Linked DNA regions of Homo sapiens: region 1 is linked to region 2. A link means that fine-mapping ties the variant in region 2 to the expression of a gene that starts in the linked region. Tissue or cell type: whole blood. Region 2 holds a variant in brackets; the other region holds the start of a gene. All regions are shown on one strand. Distances are from middle to middle. Region 1 holds the start of MAP4 (microtubule associated protein 4). Region 2 has its middle 43 kb from the start of MAP4.

Region 1 (11,671 bases), 44 kb after region 2:
GGATAGTTGATACCTTTAAAATATCATAAAACCTTAAAATAAAATAAAACCTTATAGGTTTTTCCTAAAAGCACTCCCTTAGTAAATCACTTGTACAAAAATCCGTGCCTCAGATTCTACATCTAGTAAACTGATTCTAAAACACCTTCCTAACAAGGGGGAGTGTGATGTCTTTCTATTGTTAAGTTGTATTAATCCTGTGTTGCATTTCATTTCAGTGAATTTTATCTTGAATGGATTAGGTAGATTGTTGATTAATTCAGTGACCCTCAATTGTGGGTGCCTCTCGGACTCAACTTTAATGAGATTTCTCTGTGTCATGATTACCCTTACTGCAAGAAAACCAACAACACTGAGATTTTTGGTGCAGTAGCACATGCTTCTAGTCTCAGCTACCTGGGAGGTTGAGGCTGGAGGATCGCTTGAGCCCAGGAGCTTGAAGCTGTAGTGTACAATGAGCACACCTGTGACTAGCCAATGCACTCCAGCCTGGGCAACATAGTGTGACTTGTCTCTAAAAAAAACAAAACAACAACAACAAATAATACTCATATTGCTTAACCCTGTCCCTGAACAATTCTGATCCAGCGTGTTTTTTTTGTTTTTTTAATACTTTTAATTCAGATTTTTACTTGTATTTCAGGTAAAATATTAAAAGTTATGTTACTAATAACTTGAAAGATCTCTTCAACTTTTGCTGTTCAATTTTCATTTAATAATGATATTCCCCCCCTCCTTTTTGAAAGCATCTGTAAGATATTAGGTCAAAGTAAGGCCTTTGCCACGACTACAAAATGCTTGTTAAGTACTCCCATAGAGTTTGTATCTTCTCCTTCTTGCTCAGAAAAGCTGAGCTACTCTACCCTTAGTCGTGCCTAGAACCAATACTTAGAAGAACTATGAGGGTGCTTCCAGCTGTGCAAACATCAACCCCAGCAAGAGAAGGCTGGTATGGTATGGAGCAGAGCGCACCTAGCAGGACAAATGTGCATTTAATGAGAGCCTGTGAGGTTTCAAGTTTATTATATTTAGATGTCCAGGATAAAAGGTGAGAAAGATGCTATCCTAGCCATCGAGGAACTCAAGCGTTAAGGGGAACTCTGGGTGGGACACACATTGTAAATAAACAATTACAAGGGTGGGCATGGTGGCTCACACCTGTAATCCCAACACTTTGGGAGGCTGAGGCAGGCGAATCACTTGAGGTCAGGAGTTCAAGACCAGCCTGACTAACATGGTGAAACCCTGTCTCTACTAAAAATACAAAAATCTCCGTCTCAAAAACCCCACAAAAAACAAAACAAAACAAAAATTATAGAATTGGCAGCACAAATTCCTATGTCCTCTTCTACCTTCCACTTTTCTTTATTTTCACTGATATAAAATAGAGTGAAACTTCACTTTGCTTAATGGGAGAAGTTTTTCTTTTGTTATCTATTATTTTCAAGACAGGGCCTCACTCTGTAGCCCAGGCTGGAGTGCAGTGGTGCTATCACGGCTCACTGCAGCCTTGAACTTCCTCTGCTGAAGTGATCCGTCCACCTCAGCCTCCCAAGAGCTGGGACCACAGGTGTGCAGGCTAATTTTAAAATGTTTTCTGTGGAGACGCAGTCTCAACTGTGTTGCCCAGGCTGGTCTTGTACTCTTGGGCTCAAGCAGTTTTCCTGCCTCAGCCTTCCAGAATGTTGGGATTATAGGCATGAACCACCATGCCCAGCCAAAAGAGAGTTTTTTCTTTAATAAAATAGTTCTCAAAAGCTAAGAGCTGATCAAGTATGAATATTCTTCCTTTCTTCCAATCTCCTCAGCACTAAGTCATCCTAAAGTTACATGATATGCTTATTACTTTCTGACAGATATATGAGCTGATAACTATAGAGATTTAATATTTTAATAATTATAAAGTTTTAATATTTATATGATCATATTAACATGATGGTAGTGGCTGATATCTTTCTCTCTTTCTCTCTCTGTCCCTCAGAGATGTGGTCTCACTTTCTCGCCCAGACTGGAGTACAGTGTTGTAATCATAGCTCACTGCATCCTCAAGCTCCTGGGCTCAAGGAATCCTACTGCCTCAGCCTCCTGAGAGGCTGGCACTACAGGCACACACCACCATGCCCAGCTAATTAAAAACATTTTTTTTTGTAGAGATGGTGTCTTGCCATCTTGCCCAGGCTAGTCTTGAATTCCTGGGCTCAAGTGGTCTTCCTGCTTTGGCCTCCCAGAGTTCTGGGATTACAGGTGTGAGTCACCATGCCAGGCCAGTAACTGGTCGACCATCTTGAATATTTGTTTTTGCCACATTGCATCATGTCATGCTTTTCTAAAAGCAGAGAGAGCTATTTTTATTGCTATGCCTAATAATGATAAGATGACCAGCATGGAGAGCTGGTTCGTACGGTTACTCCTTACTGGCTTTCTTTCTATAATTCCAGACAACATGCTTGCTCTTGTACAAACTGTGTTTAGAAAGTGGAAGAAAATAGGTGAATATTCTTTTTTATTTTTATTTTTTTGAGACAGAGTCTCACTCTGTCACCCAGGCTGGAGTGCAGTGACACGATCTTGGCTCACTGCAACCTCCACCTCCCAGGTTCAAGTGATTCTCCTGCCTCAGCCTCTCGAGTAGCTGGGACTACAGGTGCACACCACCACGCCCGGCTAATTTTTGTATTTTTAGTAGAGAGGGGTTTCACCTTGTTGGCCAGGATGGTCTCAATCTCTTGACCTCATAATCCACCCACCTCAGCCTCCCAAAGTGCTGAGTGCTGGGATTACAAGCATGAGCCACCACACCTAGCCAAGGTGAATATTTGTAATTGGTGATAACCTTTCAGCCTTGAATCTGTTTATTCTTTTTCTAGTTGTGAAGAGTTTTTGTAATTTTGGAACTTCTGATTAATTTCAAATTAGATTCAATTTCTAATAACTTTCATCGTGTCATTTTAGAAATGTGTTTTTAGCCCCTTGTTTTGTTGGTTTTTATCATTTTGGCCTGTCTCCTCTGTAGTCTACTAGGAACAGAGAAGGTGTGCACATCACTTTGATGTGGTCCTCTCTTCTGGGACCCAGCAGTTTACAGGAGCTGGTATATACAACTAACTACAGTGGGGGGTCCCCAACCCTCGGTCTGTAGATTGGTACCAGTCCATGGCCAGTTAGGAACTGGGCTGCACGGCAGGAGGTGAGCAGCAGGTGAACAGCATTACATTAACTTTGCGATAAGTGTGCCTGAGTTCTGCCTTCTGTCAGATCAGCAGTGGTTTTAGATTATCATAGGAGCGCAAACCCTATTGTGAACTGCACATGCGATGGATCTAGGTTGCATGCTCCTGTGAGAATCTAATGACTGATGATCGGAGGTGGAAGAGTTTCATCCCGAAACCATCTCCTCCCTCTCACCCCTCCTGCTATCTGTGGAAAAATTGTTTTCCACGAAACCTGTCCCTGGTGCCAAAAGGTTTGGGGACCACTGAACTACAGTATAGATCAGACTCTACTGTTACAAGTACAGATGATGTATTAGTTCTGAATACTACTGGGAGAAAGATTCTAAAAAGCAGTCACAGAAAAGGTGGTAAGACAATTTATGTGGACCTTGATTTCAAGACTTTCACAAATGAGGAGGGAGAGAAGATAACTTCAAGTTTGGAGAGCAAATGAGCATAGGGTGTACAGTGATAATGTAAGATGGTAGATGGTCCCATGTGACTAAATTGTAGGGAGACCCTACATGGAAAGCTGCTGATGATTATGGTGGGTGATAGGACTGAGTCTTGTCAGTCAGCCTTGATATTACACGTAAGAGTTTGGATTTACAAAAAAAAAAAAAAAGAAAAAAGAAAAAGACATCTAGGCATTGGGGTCCCTTTAAAGATCAGGTGGAATGTTTTCCTGATGTTCAGGATTCTTCCTGCCTGCCTCCCTCCTTGCAGAAGAAAAGATAGGTAGGTATAAGTAGTAGGTAGGTAAAGGTATGTATAAGCAGGTATAATTCAAAAGGTATATGAAGTACAGCGAAGTCATTGTGTTAGATAAAAGCAGAAACTACAAAACTGTAAGGTTTTGCTTATTTTGTCACGCTCTGCTTCTGTTTTTGGTGTTCTGTGGCTCTTTTCGCCGATCCTTTGTCTCAGCCTCATTTGTAAGTGACTTGTTTTTTCCATTTCTCATTTTTTTTTCCATCTATTAAAGTGAGGGGATTGGATCCTAGATCAGTTCAACTGGTGTAAGCCTTTAGAGCCAGGCATGGTGGCTCATGCCTGTAATCCCAGCACTTTGGGAGGCCAAGATGGGTGGATCACTTGAGGCCAGGAGTTTGAGACCAGTCTGGCCAACATGATGAAACCTCGTCTCTACTGAAGATACAAAAATTAGCCAGGCATGGTGGTGTGCATGCCTGCAATCGCAGCTACTCAGGAGGCTGAGTTAGGAGAATCACTTGAACCCAGGAGGCGGAGGTTGTAGTGAGCTGAGATCATGCCACTGCATTCTCCAGCCTGGGCAACAGGCCAAGACCCTGTCTCAAAAAAAAAAAAAATGCCTTTAGAATGTGGTTAGAAATAATTTTTGGATTGGTATAGATTAACTCTGAATGTTTTCCTGTGTTAGAGGAAGGAAGTGGGATAAATGTAAAGTTTAAAAAAAATGCTCCTTTTTCAAAATTTTGAGGGGTTAGGTATTAAGAATCTTTTAAAGTTTTACTCATTTAAAAAATTTAGATAAAATGGAAGATTCATTCTTAAGGTTGGTGATATCAGAAATGTAAGTGCTGTGTCATTGTCATTTCTTATTTTGGCCTACATAACCGTAACCAGACTTCAGACATCATGCTGCCTGTATCACATGGCTAACAGTGGGAGGTATCTGGTGTGTTCTTCCTGGAGAAATAGATTGAAATTCATTTGGACAGAAATGTTGAAGGCAGGTGCCTGATCCAAAATGCATTTAGTCAGGACTGAACACAAGCTGCCTGGATAGTTCCTGTAAGTAAGCAAGGTAGCCTTTTAACTTTGTGATGCAAGGTTTTATGTATGTGAGTATGTGTGTGCAAGTGTATACAGTATTTTTATATCCAGAGAACAGGGCTCCCTTAAATGGGGGGTGGGGGGGACTCTGGTAACTACATGAAAGTAAAATATAACTTCTTTAAACCTATATCAGTGTGTTCTTTCATGTAGGAATGTAGCTGTGTGATGGCCTCAGCTATTCTAGTAATCAAGGGCTCTCTGCTGTTGCTAATCCTATGATGAACAGGACAAATGGTGGTTACGAACAGAACCCTGTCAAGCCTGGAAATTCCATCAGTTTGTAATAGCACAGCTGTTGTCCTTGAACTGTGTAGGGAGGAACCTAGGGGTGGACAGTTAATATATTCTTCAGGGGGGTTGTAGTTTATTGCTCAGGATAGTCAAGATCTTCCTCAGTTGTCTGTTGCTATCTGCAAGTCTGGTTTGGAGGAGAAGCAGGAGAAATTCAGATTTGTCTGAGGAATCATATGTGTCTGTGAACTGTGTAAGTTGGTAGTTGATTCCTGTAGACATCCTTGCTAAAGATTTATTTTTAAGTAAAATATCATTTTGCTTGAAAGTATAAATCAAGGTTTTGTGGTTAAATAAATTAAAAACAGCACAGCTGCCAGACAAAGTTCAGCTTGATGTATAACAGGCCTCTGAAAGAAGTTCAGTAAGAAACAAATCTGGGTAATAAAGTTAATTAGTAACTAAAAACCTGCTAGGCATACTAAAAAAAAATCTGATGTTGAATATTAAATTATTATGAAGCAGGCTATACCTGTATCCATCAAGATTATAAATGATCTCCCACACTGGCGACGTGGGGTTCCTTTCAAGCCTGAGGAATGAGCACTATATTTTGGCCACAGCATTCTCACTAATGTCCTAGGATAGCAGCTTAGTGTTGGCTTTAGAATTCTCTGTCATTTAAATGTCATGCAAAAACAAACGTATAAAAGAAAACATTAACCCAGATATCTTTATGGTTCCTTGTCTTGTCCATAACCGCCCCCGCCCCCACCCACCCAAAAAGGACAGGCTATCAGTTATAGAGAAAATATAAGTGAGCATTATAAGCAGTATCCTACCTTTAGTAATAATTATTTAAAGTTTATTAAATGGGTTGTTTGGAACTCAAAATGATTTGCCTCAAAGTAGCCTAGGTCACTGAGAAGAAAGTTTATTTCTTTCTGCTGAAACTGACAGGAGGCGATATTTTGAAAGATAGCAAGCTTGTCTTTGGCATGGTATTAACTCCCTTTCTTTTGCCTCCTAGGGCTCCTGGGCCTGTATACCCTTTCCCTACTTTGATACCATATCTATATCTGCTTTATTCCCTGAAAGTTCCCATGTTGCCATAATATTTTTCTTCCTTTTTCACACCAGAACCAAGAACTCAGACATCTTCAATAGAACCATCTCTGGGATGAACAATGGTCTTTCCAGGGATGTACATTTTCTTACCCACTTTTAAATTAAGAAATAGGATTCTATACTTTTAAAAAGAGAATGCTGGCTACTGCAAATGAATGTCGGTAGAAATTTGGCTAATGTGACACAGTAAAATGAAGGTTTCCTAACACAGTGGTTAGGAAAAGTGAGTATGATGGTGGGAATCAGGCTTCTGTTCTTGCTTTTTTTTTTTGAGTCAGGGTTTCACTCTGTTGCCCACGCCGGAGTGCAGTGGTGCAATAGTGGCTCACTGCAGCCTCAACCTCCTGGGCTCAATCAGTCCTCCCACCTCAGCCTCCTGAGTAGCAGGGACTACAGGCATGTGCCACCATGCCTGGCTAATTTTTACATGTTTTTGTAGAGATGGGGTTTTGCCATTTTGCCCAAGCTCTGTTCTAGCTTTTCATGAGTTTTTTCCCTGCATTTTAGCTCCCATAGTAGCACCTTTCAAGGGGTGAATAGAAGAGGACAGAGACAGCAACAGGCCATTGGTAAACCAGATTGCCAATTTCTCATCAGACAGAATGAGCACAGACCCCGAGTGAGTGGCTCTAGATGCGAATGACCTAAAATTTTCAGGAGGACTTCATGGAGCTTAAAAGGTTCTTCAGAACTTCTGTGTAATTAAGTTAGATATTAACACTGTTTAATCTGTATAGACCTGTAAAATATTTTTAGTACAGTAATTAATTCCAGAGTTTGTGAACTATCCAAAGTAAAGCATACAACAAAGTACTGTGGCCTCATCATATATCCTTATTTCCTGTTTATGAGCACCTAGCTCTTAATAGTGAGATTGTAGTCAAGAGAGTATTTTATCATCATGCCATGTAGTTGCCTCTTGCCTTAGTTTACCTATTTTAAAAAACCCGGCTCACTAATAGTTTCACTTCAGGCATGTCATCAGAATGAAAGATCAGATATACAAAGTGCTGTGCTTGAAAACTGTGTGTTCCCTTAGTGCCTGGTTAGATAATACAGGGCTTATTTTCTGGCAGAGTGGTGTTGAGTCTCCTTTGATGTTAGCCAGAACTGGGTGGAGTTTCTTAAGCTCCAGTCAGATTGGCTCAAGCAGGGCACCATGCAGTGGTGAATTTGTTTTCAGTCCCTCCCTTTGCCAAAAAGCTTTTTTTTTTTTTTTTAATAAACCTCAACCCAATTATAAATGAGAATACTTGATATATGAAATAATATGAAATGATAGTTGTTCATATTCACACTGAGGGTCTTAGGGGGTTTATTTATAGCTAACTGAAATGATGCAGCTGAATTACAAGTAGCTGATAGAATAATCAACCTCAGTAAACATTTAACATAACACTCTCATTTTACAGATTAGAGAACTCAGCCCTGAAAGGTGACTCATTCAAGGCCACAGTGAGTGTCAGATTAAACTGGTGCTTCAGTAAAGCATACAGACTTCTGTACCCAGCTTTCAAATTCTCTTGACTCTTACTCACAAATCTATTTAAAGTTAACTTTATTATCTGTATGGATAGAAGAGGAATAGTATAAATGGTCAATTGGTCAGTGAGAGGTTTTTTTTTTAGAGTAAATGCTTCTCATTCACAAGGGTTCATTTTTTGATCCTCCTGAACATCCAGATTTGAAAATAATAGTGTCATATCCTTTTATCCATAAAATATGTAACTAAGCATTTAAGGCATAACCGAATAGTAAGTAACTTCAAGTGATTCTGTGTGAGATGAAATTCATACATGAATTTATTAAAATTAATTTTGGAATACTTGAACCAGTTTAACATCTATAGAGCATTTAAAGAGTGTATTGTACTTATACATGTTTCAGAATAAAATAACTATAAAATTGGATAATCGCTTTAATTTATTGAAAACTGGGGATTTCTGGGAAAAAAAAAACAACAGTACTTTAACTTGAAAGATGACACTAGCATTACCTTTCTAGGATCATTTTCCATAAGGGGGTGTGTGTGTGTATTTTAAAATCATATTCTATTTATGTGGTGACAAGTAAAGAATAGCTTAACTGTTGATGAAATACAGATGCTAAGTGGCTAGCTAGATGTGCTCATAGCTTCATGACCTTCCCACTTTCCAATTGTATAATTTTCTATCAGTTTTACCCTCTTAGGCTGAATTTCAGCTACTGTTCATATTCCATGAACCACATGCAGCCCAGGAAGTCATCTGAGAGTGTGTGGCTGGGGGCGGGGTGGGGGTGCTGAGGGTTGGATAGGGGAAAGATTACAATGGATAAAAGCTGCCCTTTGATAATCTGCATTCTGATAAATGATATTTAAAATGTATTGGTGTTTTTGACTGTATTTTTACCCTGTGCCTTAAATGAGGAAAAGATTTGAGTAGATTGCATCTTATGTCATTATGTATTTCTGGGGAAAATTAAATTTTGGATTTTTATGGTATGTTGTTAAGGATGGCACAGATGTCCTTTTAAGTTCTCTTTGACCATGAAACTGATGCAGGATTTTTGCTCCTTAGCTCAACTAGGTCCAGGTTCTTATCTCAGGAGCGGAAGAATTAGGCACGTGGACATCAAAGAGTGAGTGGAGTAGAATCTATTAATCGAAAGGAAAGCTCTTAGCAAAAAGAGAGAACATGGTAGGTGGTTCTACTACCTGAAGACAGGAAAGTTCCGTAATATGGCTGAGCCTGGGGCTCTTTATTGGTTCAGAATGGGAGTGTGTGGTCATTGGTTTGTGAGTATGCAAAAAAGGTCAAAGCGAAGACACCACTCCAAGGTGGGCAGGACAGTGTAGAAAACCAATTAGGAAAGGGTAGGTACAGGTTAAATAGGTGAAGGATGGGGATCAATCATGCCAAACGGGAAGGCAGGTTCTTAATCCGATCTCAGGATTTACCCAGGACAGTTTCCGGATTAAAGTTCGGGTTTCACTGAGGACCCGCCCCTGTCTGCCTAGACATTTGTTTGCCTCTTGCCTCTATCAAAACTAGTTACAGACGTCCTTTTTAGTTTTTGGTTCATAACAGCTCCCAAAGGATAACTACTAATAATAGTTGTCAGAGATAGAATAGGGAAATGGCATAACCGAATAGTAAAAGCAACTGAATAGTTGCTTTTCATGGAACCCTTTGACATTATAATCTGTTAGGCTTTTAAAAGCTCTTTAATGAACTCATTTCTCAGCATTTTCCCTGTCATGATCTGGAGTTACAATAATACTTTATATGTAAAGTAGGCTGGACGAGCATAGAATAGGGCTTCCCACCCACATTCGTCTGTTGTAAATGGGTCACAGGTGTGCCACTACTACTATAGGAACTTTTTTTTTTTTTTTTGAGACGGAGTCTTGCTCTGTTACGTAGGCTGGAGTGCAGTGGCGTGATCTTGGCTCACTGCAGCCTCCACCTCCTGGGTTCAAGCAATTTTCCTGCCTCAGCCTCCTGAGTAGCTGGGATTACAGGTGCATACCATCTAAATAATAAAAATCAGTGCCCAGCTAGTTATTCTGTTTTTGTATTTTTAGTAGAGATAGGGTTTTACTGTGTTGGCCAGGCTGGTCTCAATCTCCTGGCTTCAAGTGATCCACCCGCCTTGGCCTCCCAAAGTGCTGGGAGATTACAGGCTGGGATTACCAAGTCCAGTTCCTACTATAGGAACCATTGAATTCCTATTTATGGTTCCTTCAGAAAAGCTGCTAAATCCTGAATTCGGCAGTGGTTATTCAAATAGTGGAATTTATAATTCCAGTAGTGTGAGATGGCATTTGCTGTGGACAACAGCTCTGTCATGCCACAGGAGCCCCTTTGGCAGCAAAGCTATCAGTTTTTGTCACGAGCCCCACACTACTTGTTTTAGTCAGGATTCTCTTAGAGGGACAGAACTAATAGGATATATCTCCAAAGGAGAGTTTATTAAGTATTGATTTACGTGATCACAAGGTCCCACAGTAGGCTGTCTGCAAGCTGAGAAGCAAGGAGAGCCAATCCGAGTCCCCAAAATGAAGAACTTGGAGTCCGATGTTCGAGGGCAGGAAGCATCCAGCACGGGAGAAAGATATAGGCTGGGAGGCTAGGCCCATCTCTTCATGTTTTTCTTCCTGCTCTATATTCGCTGGTGGCTGATTAGATGGTGCCCACCCAGTTAAGGGTGGGTCTGCCTTCCCCAGCCCACTGACTCAAATGTTAATCTCCTTTGGCAACACCCTCACAGATACACCCAGGATCAATATTGCATCCTTCAGTCCAATCAAGTTGACAGTATTAACATTACAAGTCCACTCCTTGTCAACTTGAACCCATATACATCTGAGATCGTATGTAATCTTAAAATAAAGACAATAATAAGGTCATAATTACACCTAATGTAATAAAACTATCCTTCATACAACCAGAAACACACCAATCCCCAACCCAAATACTATTACATAAAGTTAATAATACTTAAATGCTGTTATGAAATCAATAAATCTTATGTCACATGATAAAGGAAAAGGAAATATAAAGTGAAGATATTAGTACATGTGTATACATACACAAACATGTTTTTAACAAATGAAGGAGGAAATACTCATGGCAGTTACAGTCCTCATTTCTGCAGCTGGTCACGTGGTCATAGCTGGTATTGATGACTACCTTCTTCTACCCATTCTGTATTAACTTTGCCTTCCCCAAATACCTCAGCAGGTCATGGGTTTTTTTCCTGGTGGAGTGATCCAAACCTTCATTCCTGAATGGTCCGGATCATTTGTAGTCCTGCCTGGATTTGGCTGTTGTGGTTTTGCATTGACAGTAATCACAGGGCATGGTAATACGAAGAGATGCCCTAATGGGTCTCATGTATTCCATGCATACTCTTCCTTACTTCCGTTGTGAAGTTGTAGACTGATTTCATCTTGATAGTCTGGGTCAGTCACCTTAGCCAACACTGTAACTCCCCCTCTGAGCCTGTTGACTTAAAGGGAGGAGGAGCCCAAAGTGTCCAGGTGACAATCTTAACTTCCAGTTTAATGGAATCATTGTTGTGTCTCCTGGTGGCAGCATTCTTCCCTCTGGAATTAAGACCTCTAGGCCAGCAGAACATAATGTTGCAGGAGAGGAAGCAAAAATTTTGCTAGTGGATCACTAGGGGTGATGGTGAGTGGTGCCACTTCCAGTTCCACCCCTCGATTCCTGGACCTGTGAATCCTGGCTATGGGAGAAACAGTACCTTATATTGGACGCTGATTCAGAGGATACACG
Region 2 (11,671 bases):
GCACACTACCAAGGCTGGCAATTTTTTTTCTTTTTTTGTAGAGATGGGTACTTTCTATATAGTGGAGCTGAAAATTTTTCATTGCCTAGTGATGTAATGCTTGGCATAACACCTTAGTTTTTCTGTTTTTAGATATGTTTAGATACACAGATGCTTACCATTGTGTTACAACTGCCTGCAGTATTCAGTAGTTACATGCTGTACAGGTTTGTAGCCTAGGAGCAACAGATTATACCATATAGCCTAGATGTGTAGCAGGCTGTACCATCTAGGTTTGTTTAGTACACTCTATGACAGTTGCACAATGATGAAGTCACCTAACACATTTCTTAGAATGTATTCCCATTGTTAAGTGATGCATGACTGTCTAATTGTAACCACCCAACGGGGTCACCTTGCCCGCTGGCTCAACAGAACCTATTTATCAAGATGGGAATTACAGTAGAGAAAGAGTAATTCAAGCAGAACTGACTGTGTGGGAGACCAGAGTTTTATTATTACTTAAATCAGTCTGTCCGAGAATTTGTGAATTGGAGTTTTAAAGGATAATTTTGTGGGTAGGGGACCAGTGAGTCAGGAGTTCTGATTGATTGGGTTGGAGATGAAATCATAGGTAGTTGAAGCTGTCCTCTTGTGCTGAGTCAGTTCCTGGGTGGGGGCCACAAGACAAGATAGGCCAGTTTATATCAGTCTGGGTGGTGCCAGCTAATCCATTGAATATAGGGTCTGCAAAATATCTCAAACACGATCTTGGGTTTTACAATAATGATGTTATCCCCAGGAGTAATTTAGGGAGGTTTAGAATCTTGCAGCCTCTAGCTGCATGACTCCTAAACCATGATTTCTAATCTTGTTAGAATTTGTTAGTCCTGCAAAGGCAGTCTAGTCCCCAGCCAGGAAGGGGGTTTGTTCTGGGAAAACTAACCTAAACTGTAAACTAAGTTCCTCCCAAACAAAGTTAGTTTGGGCTAAGTCTAGGAATGAACAAGGACAGCTGGGAGGTTAGAAGCAGGATGGAGTTGGTTAGATCAGATCTCTTTCACTGTAATAATTGTCTCAGTTATAATTTTTGCAAAGATGGTTTCATAATAATATGTATATGGAATAGTTTCACTGCCCTAAAAATCCCCTGTACTCCACCTATTTATCCCTACTTCTTCCCCTTAACTACTGTAACCACTAATATCTTTCTGTCTTCATAGTTTTGCCTTTTTCACAATGTCGTATAGTTAGAATTATACAGTATATAGCCTTTCAGATTGGCTTTTTTTTCACCTAGCAATATGCATTTGAGGTTTCTCAATGTCTTTTTGTGGCTTGATGGCTCATTTCTTTTTATTGCTGAATAGTATTCCATTGTCTGGGTACACTACAATTTGCTTATCCATTCACCTATTAAAGGCATCCTAGTTGGTTCCAAGTTTTGGCAATTGTGAATAAAGCTACTATAAATGTCCACATGTAGGTTTTTGTGTTGACATGAGTTTTCATCTTTGGGTAAATATCAAGGAGTGCAATTGCTGGATTGTGTGGTGAGAGAGTATGTTTAGTATTGTAAGAACCTCCCAAACTGGGTATAACTTTTTTTTTTTTTTTTTAAGACACAGGTCTCGCTATGTTGTTCAGGCTAGACTCATCTCCTGGGCTCAAGCAATCCTCTTGGCTTAGCGTCCTGAGTAGCTGGGACTATAGGTGATTCCAGCTCACCTTGCTGGCTGTACCATTTTGCATTTCCACTAGCAATGAATGAGATTTCCTATTGTTTGACATCCTTGTCAGCACTTGGTGTTGTGCTTTGGATTTTGGCCATTCTGATACGGACACGGTGGCATCTCATTGTTGTCTTTTTTTTTTTTAATGAATTTGAAGTCTTTTTTTCTTATTAATAATTTCTTTTAACCACGGTTGTCAGAATTATTGTTGTCTTAATTGGCAATTCTCTGATGACATATGTTATTGAACATCTTTTCGTTCATATGCTTATTTGCCATTCGTATATCGTTGGTGAAGTGTCTGTTCAGATCTTTTGCCTATTTTTAAAATGGGGTTGTTCATTTTCTTTCTTTTTTTTTTTTTTGAGACAGAGTTTCACTCTTGTTGCCTAGGCTGGAGTGCAATGGCACGATCTTGGCTCACAACAACCTCCCGCCTCCCAGGTTCAAGTGATTCTCCTTCCTCAGCCTCCCGAGTAGCTGGGATTACAGGCATGTGCCACCACGCCTGGCTAATTTTTTGTATTTTTAGTAGAGATGGGGTTTCTTCATGTTGGTCAGGCTGGTCTCGAACTCCCAACCTCAGGTGATCTGCCCGCCTCAGCCTCCCAAAGTGCTGGGATTACAGGCGTGAACCACCACGCCCAGCCACATTGTTCATTTTCTTTTTTTTAATTTATTTTTAATTTTTTAAATTTTTTTATTTTTTAAACATTATTTTATTTTTAATTGACAGATAACAATTGTACATAGTCATGGGGTACATAGTGATGTTTTTTTTTTTTTTTTTTTTTTTATTGATCATTCTTGGGTGTTTCTCGCAGAAGGGGATTTGGCAGGGTCATAGGACAATAGTGGAGGGAAGGTCAGCAGATAAACAAGTGAACAAAGGTCTCTGGTTTTCCTAGGCAGAGGACCCTGCGGCCTTCCGCAGTGTTTGTGTCCCTGGGTACTTGAGATTAGGGAGTGGTGATGACTCTTAAGGAGCATGCTGCCTTCAAGCATCTGTTTAACAAAGCACATCTTGCTCCGCCCTTAATCCATTTAACCCTGAGTGGACACAGCACATGTTTCAGAGAGCACCGGGTTGGGGGTAAGGTCATAGATCAACAGCATCCCAAGGCAGAAGAATTTTTCTTAGTACAGAACAAAATGGAGTCTCCTATGCCCACTTCTCTCCACACAGACACAGCAACAATCTGATTTCTCCATCTTCTCCCCACATTTCCCCCCTTTCTACTCGACAAAACCGCCATCCTCATCATGGCCCGTTCCCAGTGAGCTGTTGGGTACACCTCCCAGACGGGGTGGCGGTCAGGCAGAGGGGCTCCTCACTTCCCAGAAGGGGCGGCTGGGCAGAGGTGCCCCCCACCTCCCGGACGGGGTGGCGGCCGGGCGGAGGCGCCCCCCACCTCCCGGACGGGGTGGCTGGCCGGGCGGGGGCTGCCCCCCACCTCCCTCCCGGATGGGGCGGCTGGCCGGGTGGGGGCTGCCCCCCACCTCCCTCCCGGACGGGGCGGCTGGCCGGGCGGGGGCTGCCCCCCACCTCCCGGACTGGGCGGCTGCCGGGTGGAGACGCTCCTCACTTCCCAGACGGGGCGGCTGCCGGGCAGAGGGGCTCCTCACATCCCAGACGATGGGCGGCCAGGCAGAGACGCTCCTCACTTCCCAGACGGGGTGGCGGCCGGGCAGAGGCTGCAATCTTGGCACTTTGGGAGGCCAAGGCAGGCGGCTGGGAGGTGGAGGTTGTAGCTAGCTGAGATCACGCCACTGCACTCCAGCCTGGGCAACATTGAGCACTGAGTGAACGAGACTCCATCTGCAATCCCGGCACCTCAGGAGGCCTAGGCTGGCAGATCACTCGCAGTTAGGAGCTGGAGACCAGCCCGGCCAACAGGCGAAACCCCGTCTCCACCAAAAAAATACGAAAACCGGTCAGGCGTGGCGGCGCGTGCCTGCAATCGCAGGCACTCGGCAGGCTGAGGGAGGAGAATCAGGCAGGGAGGTTGCAGTGAGCAGAGATGGCAGCAGTACAGTCCAGCTTCGGCTCGGCATCAGAGGGAGACCGTGGAAAGAGAGGGAGAGGGAGAGGGGGAGGGGGAGGGGGAGGTGTTCATTTTCATATTAAATTTTAAGAGCTCTTTGGGTCCAGGCGCGGTGGCTCACGCCTGTAATCCCAGCACTTTGGAAGGCCGAGGTGGGTGGATTACGAGGTCAGGAGATTGAAACCATCCTGGCTAATGTGGTAAAACCCCATCTCTACTAAAAATACAAAAAAATTAGCCGGGCGTGGTGGCGGGTACCTGTAGTCCCAGCTACTTGGGAGGCTGAGGCAGGAGAATGGCGTGTACTTGGGAGACGGAGCTTGCAGTGAGCCGAGATCGCACCACTGTCCTCCAGCCTGGGCGACAGTGAGACTCCGTCTCAAAAATAAAAAAAGTTATTTGTATATTTTGTTTCGTTTTTAATTTTTTATTTATTTTGAGATTGGGTTGTAAGACTGGCTACATTTTTTTTGTATTATTATTATTTTTTTTTTTGTAGAGACAGGGTTTCGACACGTTGCCCAGGCTGGTCTTGAACTCCTGGGCTCCTGTGATCCATCTCCCTCGGCCTCCCAAAGTGCTGGGATTATAGGCGTGAGCCACTGCGCCTGGCCTCTGTATATTTTGGATACCAGTTCTTTGTCAGAGATGTGTTTTGCAAATATTTTCTCCCAATCTGTTGAGTTTCTATTCTCTTAGCAGTGTATTTTGCAGATCAGAATTTTTAACTTCAGTAAAGTCCAGCTTATCAGTTTTTTCTTTCCTACATCATGTTTTTGGGGTTGTATCTAAGAAGTCATTGCCAAACCCTAGGTCACCTAGATTTTCTTCTATGTTATCCTCTAGGAGTTTTATAGTTTCGTATCTTACATTTAGGTCTATAATCCATTTTTTTTTAATGATCCATCAATCTTTTAATCTTCCACAGTTTTGGTGGGTTCTCTTGGACTTTATTCTGTAGCAGTTCATGACCATGTACCATTTACAGGCATGAGTGATAAACTTCATAGTGGCTGAGAAAGATCAACAGAATGAGTTGCCTTGTCCAAAGGAAATATGTCAGTGACATATGAGTGACTGAGTTTTTACTAATTGAGATTACATCCAGGTACCTTTTGGTGATGAAACTGTTTATTGTTTGTTGCAGAGTTCTACTGCAGACTAACAATTCCTGAACCCATTTAATAACCCATGTATATTAAATGTGATATGATTGGGATTTTAAAGGCCAGAGGTTTAAGAGAGAGATGTTCAAAAGTTTTTTTTTTTTTTTGAGACAGAGTCTCACTCTGTGGCCCAGGCCAGAGTGCAGTGGCACAATCTCAGCCCACTGCATCCTCCAGGTTCAAGCAATTCTCCTGCCTCAGCCTCCTGAGTTGCTGGGATTACAGGTGTGTACCACCAAGCCGGCTAATTTTTTGTATTTTAGTAGAGATGGGGTTTCACCATGTTGCCCCCAGGGTGGTCTCGAACTCCCGAGCTCAGGCAATCCGCCTGCCTCAGCATCCCAAAGTGCTAGGATTACAGGCGTGAGCCACCCGCTTCAGCCTCCCAAAATGCTAGGATTACAGGTGTGAGCCACTGCACCCAGCCCAAAAGTTGTTGAATTCTCAAATAATTAAGATTTCATGTGTTCATATGGACCATAAAGGATCAAAATAAGTATGGCTTGCCATTATTGTAATGTTGCTATCCTGAGTAGGTCTTTTTTTTTTTTTTTTTTTTTTTTTTGAGATGGAGTCTTGCTCTGTTGCCCAAGCTGGAGTGCAGTGGCACGATCTCGGCTCACTGTAACCTCCACCTCCCAGGCTCAAGTGATTCTCATGCCTCAGCCTCCCAGGTAGCTGGGACTACAGGCGCACGCCACCATGCCTGGCTAATTTTTTGTATTTTAGTAGAAACGGGGTTTCACCATGTTGCCCAGGGTGGTCTCGAACCACTGAGCTCAGGCAATCTCCCCACCTTGGCCTCCCAAAGTGTTGGGATTAAGGTGTGAGCCACTGTGCCTGGCCCTGATTGGGTTTTTATCATTATCTGTTCAGTTCATGTAGTTTTGGCTGTTAATTCTGTACTTGAATTATTCAATCACAAAGTGTTTTTACTGACTGCTGACTCTACTTTCACTTTCATTACTTAATGATGAAGGCTGTTTAAAATAATGTTGTAATGCCGGGCACGGTGGCTCACACCTGTAATCTCAGCACTTTGGGAGGCCAAGGAGGGCAGATCACCTGAGGTCAGGAGTTCAAGAGCAGCCTGGCCCACATGATGAAACCCATCTCTACTAAAAATACAAAAATTAGCCGGGCGTGGTGGTGCACGCCTGTAATCTCAGCTACTCGGAGGCTGAGGCAGGGAGAATCACTTGAACCCAGGAGGTGGAGGTTGCAGTGAGCCGAGATAGTGCCATTGCACTCCAGCCTGGGCGACAGAGCAAGACCTCATCTCAAAAATAAATAAAATAAAATAAAATAATATTGTATCTAGATTTTCAAATCAGGTGTTTATGCAGGAAAAGACAATTGTTTTATTGGTTTTAGAAAACCAACAAACCAAAGCAACAATAAAGATTCCTGTATACATTTTTTTCTTTAATTAATGAATTACTTGGGTCATTCTGGTAAAATAAGATGCTTTCTTGTTACCGAATGCCAGTTTTATCAGATGAAAAGGACTGTGTTCATAGATGATGGAGATAATCACCAGTTCTGATAGTTACTCTAAAAGATAAGACATAATCCTGTTCAGCCAGACCTAGTGAAAATCAGAAATACCGATGAAACTTGGACACGTAGAGTAAGATTTTTGGCTTAAAACACCTTTGCAAGTGGGTGGGTATGTGTAGTATTTATGTGTGCTACTTGGTTTCTAAAGACTCCCTACTATATGCTAATTTTTAAATTATGTACATGGTACTTTTTAAGCCTCGCAGGCTGGCCAGCCGGCCTACTGGCCTCCCTCCCTCTCTCCGTACAATAAATTAGC[C/T]AAAATAATGAGGTAATATCTAAGTCATTGTAGTCTAGGACTGAGTCATTTTTCTCTTTGAAAAAATTCCAGAATACTTTATATTTTCTTGAAGGTAACTTTTTTGCACTTGTTTTAAGGTATTGTTACTTTATTTACAGCCAACGAAATGGAACTGTTAGGTTTGTAAGCATCTTATATTTTTGAAGTGCTGATTGTATGTTCAATCTAATTCAATAAATATTTATTGTCTAATATGTTCTAGGCTTTGGTGTAGGTGCTTGGGATATAAGGATATGTAACTCATAGTTCAGCCTTAAGTCTAAATATTTAGTATATTTGTGTTTTTTAATTTAGTTTTTAAACACAGTTTTTTAAAATAATTTTGAGATAATTATAGATTTACATTCAATTGTAAGAAACAATAATACAGAGATATCCCTTGTACACTTTACCCAGTTTCCCCTGGTGGAAATTTCTTGCAGAATCATGGTACAATATCACAACCAGGGTATTGACATTGAAACAGTTAACAGTAAAGTGGTACAGCCACTCTGAAAAATAGTTCGGCAGTTTGCCTAGGAGTACAGTTGCTAGGCCATATGGTAGTCGCATGCTTACTTTTTTTTTTTTTTCTTTTTTTTCTTTTTTATTTATTTATTTATTTATTTTTTTATTGATAATTCTTGGGTGTTTCTCACAGAGGGGGATTTGGCAGGGTCATGGGACAATAGTGGAGGGAAGGTCAGCAGATAAACAAGTGAACAAAGGTCTCTGGTTTTCCTAGGCAGAGGACCCTGCGGCCTTCCGCAGTGTTTGTGTCCCTGGTTACTTGAGATTAGGGATTGGTGATGACTCTTAACGAGCATGCTGCCTTCAAGCATCTGTTTAACAAAGCACATCTTGCACCGCCCTTAATCCATTTAACTCTGAGTGGACACAGCACATGTTTCAGAGAGCACAGGGTTGGGGGTAAGGTCACAGATCAACAGGATCCCAAGGCAGAGGAATTTTTCTTAGTGCAGAACAAAATGAAAAGTCTCCCATGTCTACTTCCTTCCACACAGACACGGCAACCATCCGATCTCTCAATCTTTTCCCCACCTTTCCCGCCTTTCTATTCCACAAAGCCGCCATTGTCATCCTGGCCCGTTCTCAATGAGCTAGTGGGCACACCTCCCAGACGGGGTGGTGGCCGGGCAGAGGGGCTCCTCACTTCCCAGTAGGGGCGGCCGGGCAGAGGCGCCCCTCACCTCCCGGACGGGGCGGCTGGCCGGGCAGGGGGGCTGACCCCCCCCACCTCCCTCCCGGACGGGGCGGCTGGCCGGGCGGGGGGCTGAACCCCCCACCTCCCTCCCGGACGGGGCGGCTGGCCGGGCAGAGGCGCCCCTCACCTCCCGGACGGGGTGGCTGGCCGGGCAGGGGGGCTGACCCCCCCCCCACCTCCCTCCCGGACGGGTCGGCTGGCCGGGCGGGGGGCTGACCCCCCCACCTCCCTCCCGGACGGGGCGGCTGGCCGGGCAGAGGGGCTCCTCACTTCCCAGTAGGGGCGGCCGGGCAGAGGCGCCCCTCACCTCCCAGACGGGGCGGCTGGCCGGGCGGAGGGCTGACCCCCCCACCTCCCTCCCAGACAGGGCGGCTGGCCGGGCGGGGGGCTGACCCCCCCACCTCCCTCCCGGATGGGGCGGCTGGCGGGGCTGAGGGGCTCCTCACTTCCCAGTAGGGGCGGCCGGGCAGAGGCGCCCCTCACCTCCCAGACGGGGCGGCTGGCCGGGGGGAGGGCTGACCCCCCCCACCTCCCTCCCGGACGGGGCGGCTGGCCAGGCGGGGGGCTGACCCCCCCACCTCCCTCCCGGACGGGGCGGCTGGCCGGGTGGGGGGGCTGACCCCCCCATCTCCCTCCCGGACGGGGTGGCTGGCCGGGCTGAGGGGCTCCTCACTTCCCAGTAGGGGCGGCCGGGCAGAGGCGCCCCTCACCTCCCGGACGGGGCGGCTGGCCGGGCGGGGGGCTGACCCCCCCACCTCCCTCCCGGACGGCACGGCTGGCCAGGCGGGGGGCTGACCCCCCCACCTCCCTCCCGGACGGCATGGCTGGCGGGGCGGGGGGGCTGACCCCCCACCTCCCTCCCGGATGGGGCGGCTGGCCGGGCGGGGGGCTGACCCCCCCCCACCTCCCTCCCGGACGGGGTGGCTGCCGGGCGGAGACGCTCCTCACTTCCCAGATGGGGTGGCTGCTGGGCGGAGAGGCTCCTCACTTCTCAGACGGGGCAGCTGCCGGGCGGAGGGGCTCCTCACTTCTCAGACGGGGTGGTTGCCAGGCAGAGGGTCTCCTCACTTCTCAGACGGGGCGGCCGGGCAGAGACGCTCCTCACCTCCCAGACGGGGTCTCGGCCGGGCAGAGGCGCTCCTCACATCCCAGATGGGGCGGCGGGGCAGAGGCGCTCCCCACGTCTCAGACTATGGGCGGCCGGGCAGAGACGCTCCTCACTTCCTAGATGTGATGGCGGCTGGGAAGAGGCGCTCCTCACTTCCTAGATGGGATGGCGGCCGGGCGGAGACGCTCCTCACTTTCCAGACTGGGCAGCCAGGCAGAGGGGCTCCTCACATCCCAGACGATGGGCGGCCAGGCAGAGACACTCCTCACTTCCCAGACGGGGTGGCGGCCGGGCAGAGGCTGCAATCTCGGCACTTTGGGAGGCCAAGGCAGGCGGCTGGGAGGTGTAGGTTGTAGTGAGCCGAGATCACGCCACTGCACTCCAGCCTGGGCACCATTGAGCACTGAGTGAACGAGACTCCGTCTGCAATCCCGGCACCTCGGGAGGCCGAGGTTGGCGGATCACTCGCGGTTAGGGGCTGGAGACCGGCCCGGCCAACACAGCGAAACCCCGTCTCCACCAAAACCAATCAGGCGTGGCGGCGCGGGCCTGCAATCGCAGGCATTCGGCAGACTGAGGCAGGAGAATCAGGCAGGGAGGTTGCAGTGAGCCGAGATGGCAGCAGTACAGTCCAGCTTCGGCTCCGCATGAGAGGGAGACCATGGGGAGACGGAGACGGAGACGGAGACGGAGACGGAGACGGAGACGGAGAGGGAGAGGGAGAGGGAGACTTTTTAAAGAAACTGCCATTTGTATTGATATAATATGGTGGAGGCCCAGGTTCCCCACGTGGTCCCCGCTGATCTTGTTACTGGTCTGCAGGGATGAAATTCCTGGATACCCTACTTGGCTTTCTGTCTCCACCTTGGAAGGGGTATTGAGTGCTTAATTACAGCTTTGAGAGGTTGGAAATCTAGGCTCCCCACTTGGCCTTTGCTAGAACGGGTAGGTTTTAAACCACAGTATTTTCTTGGTGTTTGGCTGGGGTAGATTGGTTATTGTCTAAAACTTTTCTGTCTTGCTAGACTGCTACTTTCTTGGTCTTTTAGCTAAAGAAGACTGACTTTTGTTGGGGCTTTTCTTTTCTTTTTTTTTTTTGGAGACAGAGTCTTGCTTTGTCGCCCAGGCTGGAGTGCAGTGGTATGATCTTGGCTCACTGCAACCTCTGCTTTCAGGTTTCAAGTGATTCTCGTGTCTCAGCCTCCTGAGTAGCTGGGATTACAGGAGCCCGCCACCATGGCCAGCTAATTTTTTTTTTTTTTTTTTTTTTTTTTTTTGAGATGGAGTCTTACACTGTCGCCCAGGTTGGCGTGCAGTGGCATGATCTCGGCTCACTGCAACCTCTGCCTCTCGAGTTCAAGTGATTCTCCTGCCTCAGCCTCCTGAGTAGCTAGGATTACAGGCGCCCGCCACCACACCTGTAATCCTAGCTACTTTATTGTATTTTTGGTAGAGACGGGGTTTCACTATGTTGGCCAGGCTGGTCTTGAACTTCTGACCTCATGATCCACCCACCTTGGCCTCCCAAAGTGGGATTACAGGCGTGAGCCACCGTGCCTGGCCTGCTCCAGCTGATTTTTTGTTTTTGTTTTTTGTTTTTTTTGTTTTTTGAGGTAGAGTCTTGCTCTCTCGCCAGGCTGGAGTGCAATGGCGCGATCTCGGCTCACTGCGATCTCCGCCTCCTGGGTTCAAGTGATTCTCCTTCCTCAGCCTCCTGACTTGCTGAGACTACAGGTGCGTGCCACCACACCTAATTTTTGTATTTTTAGTAGAGATGGGGTTTCACCATGTTGGCCAGGATGGTCTTGGTCTCTTAACCTCATGATCTGCCTGCCTCGGCCTTCCAAAGTTTTGGGATCACAGGTGTGAGCCACCATGCCTGGCTGGGTATGTTTTTAAAATGACATTTATTTTTTCTTTTTGCAAAAGTTTTATTTAATGTAGATAATTTAGAAACACAAAAATTATAAAAGAGAATAACATTTTCATATATATTCTTCTAGACATTTCCTGTGAATATATATACATATTTTTCTTGTGAAAATAAGAACTATATATACTACTCATGAACTTTTTGCTCGATATAAGCATCATTCCTTGTTAATAAATGCATGAATATAGCACCAATTTGGTATCAATCAGGTTGTAATGTGCACATTCTGGAGATCATCAATATGTGTTACTCCCCTAGGTCGAGTGCCTGAGAGACAGATCATGTACAAATAAACGACGTACATTTTCACATGAATCTCATAGTTCAGACATCACTTATATACTAGAGAGAGTTAGAAGTAAATCAGATTTAGTCATTAGTTTTAGAAACACTGGGTATTTGGGTAGGTATTTAGATTTTAAAGTTTAAAAATAAAAAAAATAAAAGTGTTCATGTGGCTTTACGAATGCTATTTTGATTAAAATTCTTGTTCATATTTTCCATAATATTATAAGAAGGGTCATTATACTTTTCAGAAGAACATTTGAGATAATAATGGCTTTCTTGTTTGTTCTTGGAGGAAATAGGAGATACTAGCAGTGTTGTTTCAATGAACCCTAGCATTAGTTTTCTGCTGGAACT

What was found.
Region 1: MAP4 starts here. The variant in region 2 is fine-mapped to the expression of MAP4 in whole blood (INTERVAL, PIP above 0.99).

The regions. Positions count from the first base shown.
Region 1 is chr3:48,009,651-48,021,321 of GRCh38, reverse strand. MAP4 (microtubule associated protein 4) reads left to right here and starts at 4,906. Exons shown (of 21, transcript NM_001385682.1): 1 at 4,906-4,988.
Region 2 is chr3:48,053,332-48,065,002 of GRCh38, reverse strand. It overlaps a transcript of MAP4 not described here. Among named protein-coding and RNA genes, the nearest start is that of MAP4, 43 kb to the right of the region's middle. The variant C/T (reference allele first, on the strand shown) is at 6,743.